Homo sapiens: one gene and its partner. The protein of the gene in region 2 purifies or fractionates together with the protein of the main gene of each other region. This does not show direct contact. Each region holds a gene or a part of one and is shown on either strand. Other genes may lie near its edges. The genes, in order: CCDC85C and NEUROG1.

Region 1 (8,117 bases), on a different chromosome or scaffold from region 2:
TCTCTTTGTAACACTGTATCCACCCCCACCTCCCACCACAGGCTGCTTCAGGGCAGTGGGAGTAGCGCAAAGTTAGGTGGTTTAATTTGCTGGGGCTGTTCAGAGCACCTCAGCCCCTTTGATTTTGCCGTCCTGGGGGCTTTTGAGGGGTCAGTTATCTGGGCCTCGGTTTCCCTAAGTGCAGTCCAAAGAGCAGATTGCTGCAGTCTCGTGGCTGGAAAGTGAAATGTTTCTGGTTTTCAGCTGCGTCATCAATGACACTTGGCAAGAGTGCCTCTCTGCAGGACACTGGAGGGCTGGAGTGTTTAGAGCATACTTGCAGGAAAGGCTCTGTCGAGTTTTGGGCAAGGAGATGCGGCCCCAGTCTGGCTCAGCATGTCAGCTGCGACAGTGAATAATACAGGAGTGGAGGACTAGGCTACACTGAGTTTTCCACCCCACTGGGGGTCAGTGGGAGGTTGAAGTATAGGGTTTCCCACAGAACCCATCCTCCCCCAAGCCCACTTAGCACAGGACTGCTGCAAATGTTGTGGCAGCAAACCTTGCTTTGGGGTGAAATGAAAATTCAGCATTATTATTACAAATTTCGGTTACAGATGGAATTATTATTATTTAGTTTTGTCTCTTAAAGCCATGTGTGGCCTTGGGATGTGGTCCCACTAATGTAAATGGAAGGCTTGGAAACCAGGAAAGGCCCTTCTCTTAGAAACTGAGCTGTTCTTTCTTTCTTTTTTCCCTTTTTTCGAGACAGGGTGTCACTCTGTCACCCAGGCTAGAGTGCAATGGAACACTCATGGCTCACTACAGCCTCAACCTCCCAGGCTTAAGTGATCCTCCCAGCTCAGCCTCCCAAGTAGCTGTGATTAGAGCCATGAGCCACCTCACCTGGTGAAACTGGGCTTTTCTATTCTGGGACTTGTAACTTTAAATTGAGCAAAGATTGGGCCTGAGCTGAGGGAGATAATGAGTCTCTGTCTGGGTGGTGTCTAAAGTGGGGTCAGACACCAGGCTTGCGCCTTATGTGTTTGGTCTTTGCTTCTTCTCACAGGAACCCTGGGGAAGCAGTATTATCCCCATTTGACAGACAAGCAAGTGGAGGCTTAGAGGGGTTCCTAGCCTTGTCTGGGAAGGTGGCTGACATTGGAAGTACCTGTCCTGGGTGGGTTTGCTGCCATGATCATCTCGTGTTCAGGCCTTGGGTCTGAATCTGTTGTGCCCTTGGTCTGTTGTCATGTTTGCTGTTACTGTTAATCAGGGGACACTGGTGACTCCCTATTCTTGATTCCTGACCCAGGTTTGCCCTCTTTCTCCCATGCTGGGAAGTGTCACTTCCTTATCAGTGACCATTGAGCAGATGGCTGATAACCCCGTTACCCAGAGGCTCAGGGTGACTTGAGTTTGAATCTCAGCTCCTCCATGTATACTGGGCAAGTTATTAACTGGCCAAGCCTCTCTGTGCTCCTCTTCTGTAAGATGGACAGAACCCAGAGTGCCCCATTATTCACACAAGGTTGAGTGAGGTCAGGATCTACACACAGTAGGTTTCTCCTGTTGTTAGGGTCCTTGGGGCTCTCCCAACAGACCTCAGTTTCCTCTTCAAAAGTGCTTGCTGCTTAGACAGCTCACCTGAATGTTTGCATCTGAGCCTCTTGTGTGGCAGCACTTGCTGATGAGCTAGTGAGGACAGTGGCCCTGCTGTCCTTTCTGGGGAGCTGGTGGCAGTTGCAGCCCTGCTGGGTGCCCTGGGCAGACTCTAGTGGCTGAGGTGGGAGGTGGCCCATCTGTATGCAAGGCAGCCCTGGCTGAGGCTGGCCTGGTGGGCCTGTGTATTGTGTATGTACATGCAAATAGGCTTTTCTCCTTGGCTGCTTATTTATTTATTTATTATTTATTTAGAGACAGGGTCTCTCTGGTCACCCAGGCTAGAGTGCAATGGCACCATCATGGCTCGCGGCAACCTCAACCTCCTGGGCTCAAGTAATCCTCTTGCCTCGGCCTCCTGGGATGTGTGCTACCATGCCCAGATAATTTTTGAATTTTTTGTAGAGACTGGATCTCACTATGTTGCCCAGGCTGGTCTCGAACACCTGGGTTCAAGCAGTCCTCCTGCCTTGGCCTCCCAAAGTGTTGGGATTACAGACGTGAGCCACTGCACCTGGCCTTGGCTGCCTTTGGTAGAGGTCTGGTCTGGGCTGACTGGACTTGGGACTGGGCTGTGCGTTGCTCTAGTCCAGTGTGGCACACTGAGACAGGTAAACCCCAACACCAGAAAGTCAGGTTCTCCTTCATGAACTGATAGGATTTTCAAACAAAAGAATTTTCAGTTCTTTTTCCAGCTGCCCCTCCGCCTGTCTCCTGTGCCCCACGACAGGCACCATGCCCCCCTCCTGCCCATTGCCAGGCATTTCCTTCCCTCCCCTGATAACCTGCTCCTCCACGGTCCACTCCCCTTTAGCCAACCTGGAGGAACTAGGATTCTAGCAAGCCTGTGCATGAGCCCCATTTACTTTTTAAAGTTCGGATTAAAATTTTGAGCTTCTCAAAATGAGACAGGTTTGTTCTCCTGCTTGTGTTTTTGTTGGTTTAAGAGGGAGGATGGAACGGGGTGGTCTGGGCCTTTAGAAAAAGACAGAGCACGCTAACTCTGAATAGGTCTTTTCTGTGCAGCAGCTCGGCTAATAAGGCTGCTTTTCCTAAACCCAGCCAAGCTCAGGAACAAAGGTCAGTGAAGACAATGGGGTGGGTTAGATAAGCCTTTCCCCCTCCTTCCCCAGCCTGTCCCAAGGGATCCATCAATGGCCTTGGGATGCTGGGCCTCAGAAAGGAGGGCTGGCCTTGAGAGGCTCCCAGGCAGGTGACCCAGGGGTGGGTAAACTGTGCCCAGTGCTTCACAGTTTGCCACAAACAGCATCCCAGTCCCAATTCCATTCTGTTCAGAGCTTCCAAATGGTCCCAGGAGGGAGACCTTAGCATCTCCATATCTTAGATGGGGAAATCAGGGCTTGGAGTGGTGGTGCGGTGACTTGCTCTAGGTCCTGTGGGGCTGATTGGGGGGCCTGGGATGCGTCTTGGGTCTCCTGTGTCAGAATTCTGAGCCCATGGCCCTGTGCCTGCTGCCCAGAGAGTTCCAGGGGAGCGGTGACCTCTGCCACAGAGACAGGGCACCTCCTCCCAGGATGCCAGGCCCGGGGCCTCATTCCTGTCTCCCTGTGTCCTGGCATGGAGGAGTGGGGGAAGGCGGTGCAGGGTGGGCCACCTTCCCTACGATGGCTGTGGCTCCCCATCTCTTGGTTTCTCCTTCCCTCACTTCTCTGCACGAGGCTGGCTTGCCACCGCAGCAGTCGCCCCACCAGACCTCTTGCTCAGGCCTGGCCTCTGAGTTCCCAGGACCAGCACGTGATACAGAAGGAAATCAGTGGTTGCTCCTAATCTGTTTTCCGCCGGTGGGGATTTTCCAATCCATGCTTGTTGCCTTCATTTGCGCAGAGAATTGGAAGTCTGTTAAGCAAGTTCCTGAGCCTCCATGGGCCTCTGTTTTCTCTTTTGCCAAGTGGGAAAATGTTACTAACCTTTGGGTTGAGGGAGGAGGGTGTGTAGTGAGTGATACGTGTAGCCTCTGGCGGGTGGCAGCCCCTGATGTGCGAAGGCCCCATCTCCCGCTGCAGCGCTCGGCACCCCGCATGCCGAGGGGCATGTAGCCCTCTGGTTAGTGATCTGCCTCCAGGGTCAGAGAGCCCTGGGTGAATCTTGGCTTTGCCACCTGCTTTATGGCCGTGGCAGCTTACTGAACCTCTAAGCCTCAGTTTCTTCATCTATATCCTGAGGCTAATAATGTCTCGATCCTAGAACTGGGCCTTAAAGGATGGGTTCCATGTCCTTTCATTATTTCCTGGCCTCTGCGGATTTGCCTTCCCTGGGTGGGAGTGGGAGATCCCCTGACACACGCTGGTACCCAGTGTAGGGTCGGAGGCAGCTGAGTCCTCATCTAGTTGAATGGAGGGAGCCAGCATTCCAGGCAGGAATAAGAATGGCTAAGGTTTGGAAGTGGGGTCTGGAGCATGGCATTGAGAATCCGGGGCCTGCAAGGTGGACCCAGGATGTGTGTGGGGAGATAACTCTTAGGGGGGTTAGTGCTGTGGGCAGCCCCACAGGGCAGACCCCAAAGTCCCAGCTTTTCAGACTTCAGTGCCCACAAGCAAGAGTGGCCCAGGTGGCCTGTGTTGCCTCCAGGGCTGGGGAGCGCTGTGTCAGGGGAGGTTGCGTGGACACTGAGAAGGGGCATTCCTGAATCCACTGAGGATGGGGCTTGTGGACACCCCAGACAGCTCTGGGAATCTGGTTGAGATGTGGGTTCTAAGACACGCCCCACATTACAACTGGGAAGGGAAAATGCCCAGCTTTGAATGTGTGTGTTCAATCCAATCTGGTTGAACCCAGAGCCAGGTGGGAAGCGGGACTTGACCTCACAGGTGGTAATTTGCTCTTCAGGAGGAAGGGAAGCGTCTGCGGACTTCACTGAGCATTTACTGCCTCTGAGGTCTGAGTGCCTCCTGAGCAGTGATTCTTGGAGTCTGGCTTGGGGGGTGGTGGTTCTGGAGCATCACTCTGGTGACCACTGTGGTGTGGGCTGGGCTGGGGGAGCAGTGGGTGGAAGCTGAGGGCTTCCATCGGGAGGAGGTTCTGGCCAGGAGAGTGGCCACAGGAGAGAGCCTTCTGTAGGTTCCAGACCTGGTGAGTCTGCTCCAAAGTCCTGCTCTCAGCTGCTATCTGCCTTCTCATGACCTCTGTCCTCTAGGGCAGGCGTCCTGAGCTCTTGGGTGGGGCTCAGGCAGGACAGCGCCTGTGGGAGATGCTGCCGCTCCCAGGTGGCTGCTGTGCCCTCCATCCCCAGCGCTGATGCTGCTCCCCGCTACTCCCATCCCTACATCTAGGGTGGTTGGGATCAGCGTCTGGGATCTAGGCAGGGACCACTCTGGGGTTCAGAATTCTCATCTCCCTGCTACATAACAACAAGAGACTCTATTGGCATCCCCAAAGGCTTGGGGATAGAGGAACAAACTTGTCTGCTAAAGGGACTTGATGCTTCTTTGATCATAACATGTCAGAAATGGTCCCCCTCCCCTAGGCAAGCACCCAGGATTGGACACTCATACATCCCCTGTCCTCACAGGCAGAGGGTTCTGGGCAGGCCTGGAGCCGGGTCAGCCGGGGATGGGTGCCTGTTCTTCAGCAGGTCACCGCTGACCTCCAGCTCTTGAGGGGAGCAGAGCAGAAAGATCAGGATTGTATTGACTGCCTGTAAGTGTTCTTGGGTTTGCCTTATGTGTACTGTTCAAACAGAGGCGTGGAGCATGTTTAACTACAGTAGATGGCCCTGGGGAGGAAGCGAGGGTCTGATTCCCTTTCCTTCTTCCTGATTCCTCAACGGCAGAGACATTCTGCCATTTCCTCAGTTCAAAGCTGGGCATTTTCCCTTCCCAGTTGTAATATGGGGCGTGTCTTAGAACCCATGTGGACATTTGCTGGCAGGTCTTCCCCTCTCTGCCCCTGGAAAAGCCCTTGAGTAGACTGTGTCTGCGGCTGATGGTATCTGAGAGTGGAACAAATGCCAGGCCCGGGAGAGCCGGAAACCCCTGAGCAAACTTCACAGAGTCCTAAGGCACTAAGAGACTTGAGAAAGACAGGGGCCCACCCCAGGGCCAGCCACATGGGTGCTGGAGCCCTCCCTGCCCACCTGGGGCCCTCTGTCATTACTGTCTCTTCATCTGGGAGTTTATGAGCCTGGGACTCTGGTCCTCTTGACTCCCAGCCTTGGCACAGAGTGGCAGGTTCTGAAAGTCTTTTGGATGGAACAAACGTGTGCCTGGCACTGTGCTGACAGCAACTGGGTTTTCTCTCACTCGCCTCCCACAACAGTTGCTGGTCCCCATTGGGGTCCCTGTTTCATCTAAGGAACAGGCCCAGGATGGTGAGGCAAGTTACAGCAGGGGCAGGGTGGGGCTGGGCCAGGTCAGGGACTCCCGTCCAGTTGAACCCGGAGCCTGTGCCAGCCGGTATGTCCCGGTTCCCTTGCCCTGTGGGTGTGATTATTCATCATGCCCCTTTCCCTCAAGGAAATGCCCAGGTTGGGCTCTTAACCTCTTCAGGTGTGCTGGGAGCTCAGAGGAGGGGTGGCCGAATTGGGAACTGAGATGGGCCTTGAAGATGGAGTTAGTAAAAGCAGAAGAGAGCAGGTAAGAAGAGAGACCAGGCTTCGCAGAAAGAACAGCTGAGCTGGGCGGATCACCTGAGGTCAGGAGTTCAAGACCAGCCTAGCCAACATAGTGAAACCCCATCTCTACTAAAAATACAAAAATTAACCAGGTGTGGTGGCACGCGCCTGTAATGCCAGCTATTTGGTAGGCAGGAGAATCTCTTGAACCCAGGAGGCAGAGGTTGCAGTGAGCCATCGCGCCACTGCACTCCAGCCTGGGCCACAGAGCAAGACTCATCTCAAAACAAAACAAACCAAAACCAAAACCAAACGAAACCAAAACAAAAAGAAGAGCCGAGCAAAGTCATGCGGTGGGCATTTGCCTGCACCTTGGGTTCAGCTGGGGTGATGGATGAGTGGGGACCCAGGACAAGCACTGGGGCAGTGAGCAAGGCCAGGGCCGGTGGGGTCTTTGAAGCCTCTTCTACTGTCCCTGAAGTCCCTAGGTTGGGCTTTCCTTCGGGGTGTGGGCAGTTCTAGCTCTAACCTTTTCTGATGGACTTTCCAAGAGGACCCAGAGTTACCTGTTAGAAGTCCTATTAGAAACTGGAAACTTTTTACAGCTTATCCCCATCTTTCCCCTGCTCCCCACCTGATAAATATGCAGACACATCACCTGCTGGGCCTGAGTGGCCTTGTCAGCTGACATGCTCCCTGCCTGGGGGTCTTGGAAGATTACTAGTGTTCTGTGGATTGGACGATCCAGACAGAACCAGTGGCTTCAGCCCACTTGAGACCCAACCATGTGTAAGTCTGTGCCTCTCCCTGGGCCCTCATTTTCCCATCTGTAAAATAGGAAGCTTGGATGGGCTGAGCTGAGAGTCCCAGGGACCCTCATCTCTTCTGGCCCTTTGACTCAGAGCCACAAGGAAGGGGTGGCCTCCCCTGCCCATCCTGCCTCCTATCGGTCACTCAGTGGTCCTATGAGCCAGCTCTTTTATATTCCTGGGAATTCTCTTCCTATGCCCTACAGCCTGGGTTTTATCACCTGCCTCGTGGTTGGTCCTTGCCTTGGGGCAGGTGTGGGGATGGTGAGGCTACCTGTGACCACATGGGTCCCACTGTGGGGCCTAGAGATGGTGACCTGTCTAAACGCTGTTTGAGGCTGAGACCCTGGCCCAGACCAGCCTCCCCTCCTGCAGGGCCCCAGTGGAAGTACCTGCCTCCCCTATCTGATTGCCTCTGCTTAAAGGACTCAGTAAGGGGTTTAGTGCAAGAGGAGAACACTGAGCTTCAATTCCTGGTGCAGGTTTGCTGGGGACAAGGCTGCATGTTCCTGGACTCGAGGTTCCTCTGCTTGCTGTCCTGTCTCTCTCCCAGTCCAGAATGTTGTTGCAATGCATAGTCAGTGTTGGAGGGAGGAGTGAACAGTCCCGGAAGGACTGACCAGGTGCCAGATAGTGGTTGACCCACTTTGCCCACCTGTCCTTCTTTTCTCATTTGTACACTTGGCACCGAGTTAAATAAGTTACTCCCCGCCCCCCGCCCCCACCCCCAGCAAAATCAAACCTCCCCAAGAGGGTGGTGATTTACACAACCCCACCTTCCCCATTTCCCCTGAATAATTACTAAAATATATACCTTTTGGCTTTCACCAGTGGTTCCTAATTGTGGCTGTATATTAGCTATCACTTAGAAAACTTTAAAAAATACCAGTGCCCGTGCCCAGCCCCAGAGATGGGTGCAGTTGGTCCTGGTGTCATTGGAGGCTGTGAAGGCTCTGGAGGTTCTGCTGGGTGGCCAGAGCCAGGATCCCGGAGAACAGCCATGGGCCCTTCCAGCAGGCCAGCTAGGGGCGAGGATGCGCCCACACTGGGCACCACAGAGCCTGGCTGGCCAGGGTTGGGAGACTGGTGTCAGTTCA
Region 2 (7,783 bases):
TTCCTGAACCCATTCCCATCTTCCTCTGTACCCTTGCCACCAAATCACTATATTCATGAAAAGAAGAATCCAGTGGGGAAAAAAAAGATTTTTTTTTTTTTTTTTTTTTTTGACACAGGGTCTTACTCTGTCATCCAGGTTGGAATGCAGTGGTGCCATCAGGGCTCACTGCAGCCTCTACCTCCCTGGGCTCAGGTGATCCTCCCTCCTCAGCCTACTGGGTAGCTGGGACCACAGGTGCACACCACCATGCTGACTAACTTTTGCATGTTGTCCACAGTAGTCTTGAACTCCTGAGCTCAAGTGATCCACATACCTGGGCCTCCCAAAGTGCTGGGATTACAGACATGAGCCACCATTCCTGGCTGAGATCTGGTCTTAACAATGTGGGGTAACTTGTGAGCTGAGGAAATAGTAAAAGCATTTTAGGAACTACCTCTTGTAATTACTCACATTCTAAAATTTTAAAACAAAAACTGCTACTAGCTGATGCTGTTAGCTAATTGTCAGACAACAGACAAACACACTGCAGCCAGAAAAATCCCCACTGAGTTTGGGCAGCTGATTTCTCTGGCATCAAATGAAAGCTTTAGCTATTGCCCCTGAGGCCTGGCTGAGCAAGCCCTGCACCCGAGCCCTCCCTCTGTGTGCCCCCCCTTCCCCACCACTATGGGCCGGAGCGGGTGTTAAGTGTGTGTGTGTGTGTGTGTTGGGGGGATGGGGGTTGAGAAGAATGCAGGCACCCTAGCTCACAATCTTAGGCAGCTACACACCCCACTCAGGACACCACACCAGCATGATTCATCCCACACCTCACAGCCAGGGTGAACTCGGCCTCAATGGACAACAATTTGGAGGCATTGTTTACAAATTAATTTCCCCCTCTAAATAGGCTGTTATAAGAGTGGACCCTTCTGCTTGCCTAGCCTAGGCCCACCTGTCACTGGGACTTCCTAACCAGTGGTCACACTGTATTGATCTTTTTAATCCCCTCTCTTTGAAACACAGAGCCAGCTGATGTGGAGTTCCTCAAAAGAAAGACTCTCCCACTGCCCCTACCTCAACAGGTAGCTGCGGATCCGGGGCTAATTCCCTACTAAAAAGTCTTAATTGGCTTATGGGGAGCCTGAAAGATCTCCCTTGTGTTTACAAGGTGAAAGGAATGATAGATCCCAAATGCCCTAGTCTGTCTTTATCCATTTCTTGGTGGAAATCAGGTGCGTTTTATTTTTTAATTGTTTTTGAAACAGGAACAGAGGCTTTGGAGGTGAGTGGGATAGTGTTTCACTTTAGTGGTTGAGCCAGCAGGGAAAAGCAAGAAAAGCCCCAGAGACACTAATATTAGGCAAGAAACTTGGCGACTTATTTTTAGTTTTTATTTACATGAAGCGTCTGCAGTACAAAAATGTAAACTTTGATAGCTCATAATAGAATAAACTCTTTATGTACAAAAATACATTTTCATATGAATGAAGCATCTTGAATAAATTAAAGTACTCTCCAGCCCTGTGCCTGAATAGCTAAGCAAGAGTCTCCAGTTCTTCCTAGAGCGAGTCTGCAGTGGTGGGGGTCGGGATCCATAATGCATGAAGCCCACTCCTTGTCTCTGCTTTTTAAGCCTTTTCATTGTATTGTCAGCCGGCTCAAACCGAATTTTCATGCTCGTTTTTCTTCATTAGAGTTCTACAAATTGTAAAATTGACTTTTCACCTCGTCTTCAGGGGCTGATCTGTCCCTTTTCTAAATCACACTGAAGTGGTGGCTGGGGTCAGTTCTGAGCCAGTCACAAAGGAGGTTTTGTGGAGTTCAGAAAGTGCAAAAGGAAAGGCCGTCTAGGGGCGGGCAGGAGGGGCGCTGGGCTGAGGGCCGGAGAAACAGACCAAGAGACATCCGCCGCGAGGGTGCGGCGACCTAACAAGCGGCTCAGGTATCCCCGACTGCTTTAAAGCTCCCGCTTCCTCCCTCCGCCTGGAGAGGGGGTCCCGAGGCGGCAGCTGGGGCCCCATCTATTGCCTGCTGACTAGGGGAGGGGGAAAGTAACAGTGTCTACAAAGGGCCTAGTGGTAAGGAATGAAACAGGGCGTTGTGTGGAGCAAGTCTTTGGGCAGGCTTGGGAAGGAGAAAACAGGGTCGCCGGGGCGGTAGGTGAAGTCTTCGGAGGCGGCTGGGCTACTGGGGTCAGAGAGCGGGGAGGCGGCGGCGGCACCTGAGCCCCAGGACTCCGCGTCGCTGGCGGGGCTTGGGGGACCGGGCAGGCAGGGGACGCACTGCGGCGGCAGGAGGCGCTCCCGGGCACCGCCTCCGGGCAGCCCTTGATCCGCCAGGCGCAGTGTCTCGGCCAGAGCCCAGATGTAGTTGTAGGCGAAGCGCAGCGTCTCGATTTTGGTGAGCTTGGTGTCGTCGGGGAACGAGGGCAGCACGCTGCGCAGTGCGTCCAGGGCCGCGTTCAAGTTGTGCATGCGGTTGCGCTCGCGATCGTTGGCCTTGACGCGCCGGCTCCTGCGCAGCGAGTGCAGCAGCGCCTCGGAGCGGACCCGCGTCCGGCCGCGGCGCCGCCGCCTCTCCTGCTCGTCGTCCTGTGCCCCTGGAACCTCAGACGCCCGGGAGATATTGGGCGCGCCCCTGCGGGCCGGCGCGGGCGGCCCCGAAGCGGAGGCTGCCTGTTGGAGTCTGGCACAGTCTTCCTCGTCGGTGAGGAAGCCGGATAGGTCACTGCCGCTGCTGCTGGCGCAGTCGAGGTCGGAGATGCAGGTCTCAAGGCGGGCTGGCATCGTTGCGCTGTGCAGGACCGACGGACAGATAGAAAGGCGCTCAGAGCGCTGCAGCCCGGACTGAGGGCAGAGCCGCCAGGGCGCACTTACGTTCCCAACAGCCTGGGGTTGTTACTCTGTGCCAGTTGCGGGTGCGAGAGCCTGGAAGGGTGCAGGGGCGCACGGAGAACTTGGCCTGGCCTCCTCGCCTCGCCTGCAGGGGCCACGCGCCCGGCCGGTCTCCTGAGTGATGTCGCCGGCGATCAGATCAGCTCGTGTGAGCACCGAGTGTGGCACACGACTGGCCTCAGGACCCCTTAAGTACCCGGCGCAACAATGGGCGCCCCCCTCCCTTGCCACCTCCGCCCCCGCGGCAGCCCGGGTGAATGGAGCGAGGCGGCAGGTCATCCCCGTGCAGCGCCCGGGTATTTGCATAATTTATGCTCGCGGGAGGCCGCCATCGCCCCTCCCCCAACCCGGAGTGTGCCCGTAATTACCGCCGGCCAATCGGCGGCGTCGCGCGGCCCCGGGAGTCGGCTCGGGCTAAGCTGGCCAGGGCGTCTCCAGGCAGTGAAACAGAGGCGGGGTCGGCGGGCGATTAGCGGCCGAGGCACGCTCCTCTTGGGGCGGGCTGGGCGCCCCTCGCTGGGGTGGGACGGGGAGGCGGGGCGCGAGCGCGAAAGTGTGAGCCGCCCAGTGAGTTGCGGAAACCTGGAGGGTACTTGGAGTTTGGGTTCGCATCCCCTCTCCAGCTGCTTAGTGGTCGCGTGACTTTGGACGAGTAATTTAACTTCCCTGAGCATTGCTTTCCCCACCTGTAAGATGAGACAAAAGTTTACCCTGTGGAGGATGATCAGATATAATGTTTGTGGAACACTAAATGTGCAGCATCCGCTGAACAGGGTGAAAATCATTTTCAAATAGACTGGAGAGTGGCCATGCCAGAGGCACAGGGCGCAGGGCAAGGATAAGTGTCGCTGCTCCGTTCAGGCTGATGAAGAAACGGGAAAGAATCTGACCTTCATCTGGGGAGTGCGAAGAGGAGAGTGGAAAAGAGGATCGGGTGATTTCCCAGGTTGCCTTGAGTCTTGGTCTCACCCTTCCCTTCTTTCCCTTCCCTTCTCCACCCTCCTCCGCACCTCTGCCCACAAGTCACCTCAAGATTCTTAATAAGAATTAATAATATGAGAATTTATATAAATAATAATATGAGAATATAATTATTAATATGAGAATTTCCTTTTCTTTGGCGTTCCTGAAACCTTGCCTGCCCCATGCCCGGAGAAATCCGTTGCACACCGTCTCTTGGAGCCCTGCTTGCAGCCTCTGTGGCCCTCTTCAGGGTGAGCCAGCCAGGGGATCCAGCTCCCCTGGCCCGAGAGAGAGCTGGCCCCTGGAGGGCAGCAGGTGACAGTGGAACCCCTTTCCTCCAAACCCCCTCCCGCCTTCGGTGTCTTAAACTCGCCTATTCCAGCAGGTCTTCCCTCTGCATGTCAGGAGTTACTTTTCTCTTGTCACCTACACTCACCCAGGAGCCACAGGGGCCCAGACATCACCCAACTTTGTACTTGGAGGATAAATAGTAAGGAACAGCACTCGATTATAGGATGAGGGTATTAAAAACAAAATGAGCAGCTTTCAGCAAAGTGCCTGCCCCCCACCTGATATCCAAGTGGTAGCCTCAGGCCGGATGCCTGGCCTGCTGCCATGGGAGCCTAGCTGACTCTTTGGGTTGGGGGGGGATTGGCCCCTTTGAGAAAGGGGGCTGTGTAGTGGCAGTTCCCACCTCGACTCACTGACCAGCGCTTGCCTTCTGGCTCAGGGGACTCTGCCCAGCTGTCCCCTTCCCCGACTGCACCCTGCAGGTACCCCTGATCTCAGTGGAAGGCTAGGACACAGTCATATATAAGGGCTCGAGATTTATTAGAAGTCACAGAAAGTGGCTTCGACCAGCTCACTCAGGAAAGGGCAGTTGTTGGATGGATACGGGGGCTTCTCAAGAACTCAAGGGCTTCGAGGACTTGTGTAAACCAGCAGGAGCCCAAGGGTCCTCTCTCTGCCCCCCACCTCTGTTTCTCTCCCTGTGTCAGCTTCCTTTCTTTGGACTGCCACAACAAAATTCCACAAACTAGGGGGTTTAAGGCAACAGAAGTTCATTCTCTTACAGTTCAAGAGGCCAGAAGTCTGTAAGCAAGTTTTTGGCAGGGATGGCTCCTTTTCGGAGGCTCTGAGAGAAAATCTGTGACATGCCTCTCTTGCAGCTTCTAGTGGTGGCTCCTGGCCATCTTGGCCATTCATTGATTGGCAGCTGTGTCACTCCAATCTCTGCCTCCTTTCTTCATGCGGCCTTCCTCTCTGTGTCTTCTCCTTCTCTGTCTCTTGTAAGGACACTTGTCATTTGATTTAGGGCCCAGCTAATCCAGGATGATTTAATCTTGCAACCCTTGCCTTCATTATATCTGCAAAGATGCTTATTCCAAATAAGGTCCCATTCTGAGATTCTGGGTGGACATATCTTATGGAGGCCCACTATTTCAACCCACTACAACAAATGGTTTTCCAAATTCCTGAATGAGAGAATTGGTTTGGCCAGTGTCACTTTTTTGGCTGACAGGTACGTGAAGAGCTTTCCTGTTGAGAAATTTGAATGCATGAGAACCCCTTCCCCATTCCTAGCAATTAGGGTGTGGCCAAAAGATTTTAGTACAGGCAGTTAGCTGCCCCATTTGCAATTTAGGCTCAGAGCTGGTGACAGTCTAGAGTTCACTTGTGTCATGGCAACAACCCGGGAGAGCCAGTGACCAGTGGTGGAAGAGGTGGCCAGGAACCAGTGGACATCCTGTCTGAACTCTTCCCAGGGCCAGCCCTTGTTCCATCTGTTTTTTGAGCCTGGTTCTCCAGCCTTCCCACTGATTGCATGAGCCCTCCCATAGCGGGCCTTTCGTTAGTGGGGCTTTTCTGCTTCAGATAGCCAGGATTAGTGTCTGCGGTTTCATAAATAAAACACCAAGTTAAATCCTCAGGTTGCTGAAGCATAGAGAATTATCCTTGTATTATTTTGAAGTAATCCATTGGCTATGTTGATTGCCTGTGCTGGGCCAGGCACTGTGCTGGACACTGGGGTGACAGGGGTGATAAACTTGGCTGATGGGTATCATGGGCTCTGAGTCTTGCAAGCCAGGGTTCAGTGCCAGCAGAACCTTTGGAAATTATTCATCTATCCACTGCACCTCATACATGGGAAACTGAGGTGGGAGATGGGGAGGTCTTTTTTCCAGGTTACCCCAGGGATCGCTGGTGGTCAAACTAGGCCAGACTCAAGAGTCCTTTCAGGCCCTACTCTATGTTCTTCCATCATAGTCAATCAACAAATATACATGGAGAACCTACTGCATGCTGCCCTGTGTCAGGTGCTCTGTGGAGTGTGAAGCAGGCCTATAGTCCTAAAGGAGAGGAGATGTAGCATTAGGACTAGAGAGGTGTCGAGGGCCTATTAAGGGAGCAGATCTGAAGAGCATTGTGCACCTCCCAAAGGGAAGGCTTCTTGGCAGAGGGGGGACTCGCGAAGGCCTTGAAGGATGGGTGGGATGCGAATAGACAATTTAAGGAAAGAGAGGACTGGGGGTTACTATAGTGGCTATGTGGGTGCTGGTCTGGAGGATAGGGCTTCTGGGTGAACCCAGTGGAAAGAGGGTAAGGGGGCAGTTATGGTGGCCCTTGAATGGCCAGGGCAGCCTTCCTTGTTCCATTCCATCTCCTCCTCTTGCTTCTTTCTCTGAGCAGGGCTGTTAAAATTGTTCTAGTCATTCACTGTACAAGGACATCTGGTAGAGGGGGCAAGTAAGGGCTGAAATCTAGCCTCTCTACCACCCGCCAAACCATGCACCCTGACATGGGCTACACCTGTTCAGAGAGGGCACCTTGTCAAATATGTCCAGACGCACCTTATGAGCTAGCAGTAGGTCTGTGCCTTCTCCTGCCATGCTTCACTCCCTTTCCTGAACCTTAGAGAGCTGAGCAGGCAAGCATCCAAGCCTTGCCCTGCCTGCTCCTGGCTCTTGGGCAGGGCATGTTGTGGCTCCTTCTTGGCTGTTAGTGCCTACCCCTTGTGCTTTTTATAAGTGCATCTGCAGGGGGCCCTCCTATAAGTGATCTACTGAGGATGGAACTGAGCCCTGGCAGGATGAGAATGAACGGGCAGCTTAAGAGGCCCAGAGCCTCTCCTCAAGAGAAAAAGGCCAGGCCACAGTTAGAAGGATGTGCATGCTTGCCAGGGAAGATGAAAGTTTCTCCTGCCCCTCGAAGCCTTCTAAGCATAGTACCTGAGTGTACCCTCATTCTCAGAGTATAATAGAAGGTGATGTGGGCATGTAATAAATCCAACCACAGCAGGCGCTGCTATGGTGAGCACCATACCAGGTGTTCTGCCTGATGTGTGGACATCCAGCTGCCAATCTGCTGGGGGGCAGGGGAGGGTAGCCAGATGTTCCAAGGTGGGGCAGATGTTCCAAGGGACTAAGGATTAAGCTGGAGCTTCTTACACTGTGGTTACCTGGGGTAGTAGTGATGGTGGGGGTCCCCACCCCGTACCCCTGGAATCAGAATCTCTGGAGCACATGCTAAAGTCACTATTGACTGATACCTAGAGCCAATTTATTCACACTAGAATCGATATTTTGCATTAGCAACCACCCTCCTATCCTGTGCTTGCCTCAGCTCTTGAAGCAGGTCAAGTACATTTATGTGACAGCTAAGATGAGCTCTAAGGGCATACCTGTTCCAGGCAGCCCTAGGGATCTGACTCAAGACTCTGGTGGGACCAGCAGGGATGTGATTTTACTTCATCATCAAGAAGGCCTTTCTGGCATCGACACACTGATGAAGAAACAGCTTTCTTGAGAGGTGAGAGGGAGGGACTCTCAGGGTGCAGCAAGGTGTTGGATGCTTCCAGGGTCTTGAGAGACTTGGTTTATTATTATTTTTTAAATAAAGGCCAAAATAGGGGAGAAATGGTGGTAAATTATAAAAGTTTA

The links.
Region 1: the proteins of NEUROG1 (region 2) and CCDC85C purify together in Homo sapiens (co-immunoprecipitation; 2 studies listed by BioGRID and IntAct, with this or other methods). This does not show direct contact.

Annotation. Positions count from the first base shown.
Region 1 is NC_000014.9:99,593,652-99,601,768, reverse strand, and holds part of CCDC85C (coiled-coil domain-containing protein 85C), read left to right. Parts: intron 1-8,117. UniProt on the Homo sapiens protein: May play a role in cell-cell adhesion and epithelium development through its interaction with proteins of the beta-catenin family. May play an important role in cortical development, especially in the maintenance of radial glia.
Region 2 is NC_000005.10:135,532,920-135,540,702, forward strand, and holds NEUROG1 (neurogenin-1), read right to left. Parts: upstream 3,046-7,783; 5' UTR 2,772-3,045; coding exon 2,058-2,771; 3' UTR 1,363-2,057; downstream 1-1,362. UniProt on the Homo sapiens protein: Acts as a transcriptional regulator. Involved in the initiation of neuronal differentiation. Activates transcription by binding to the E box (5'-CANNTG-3').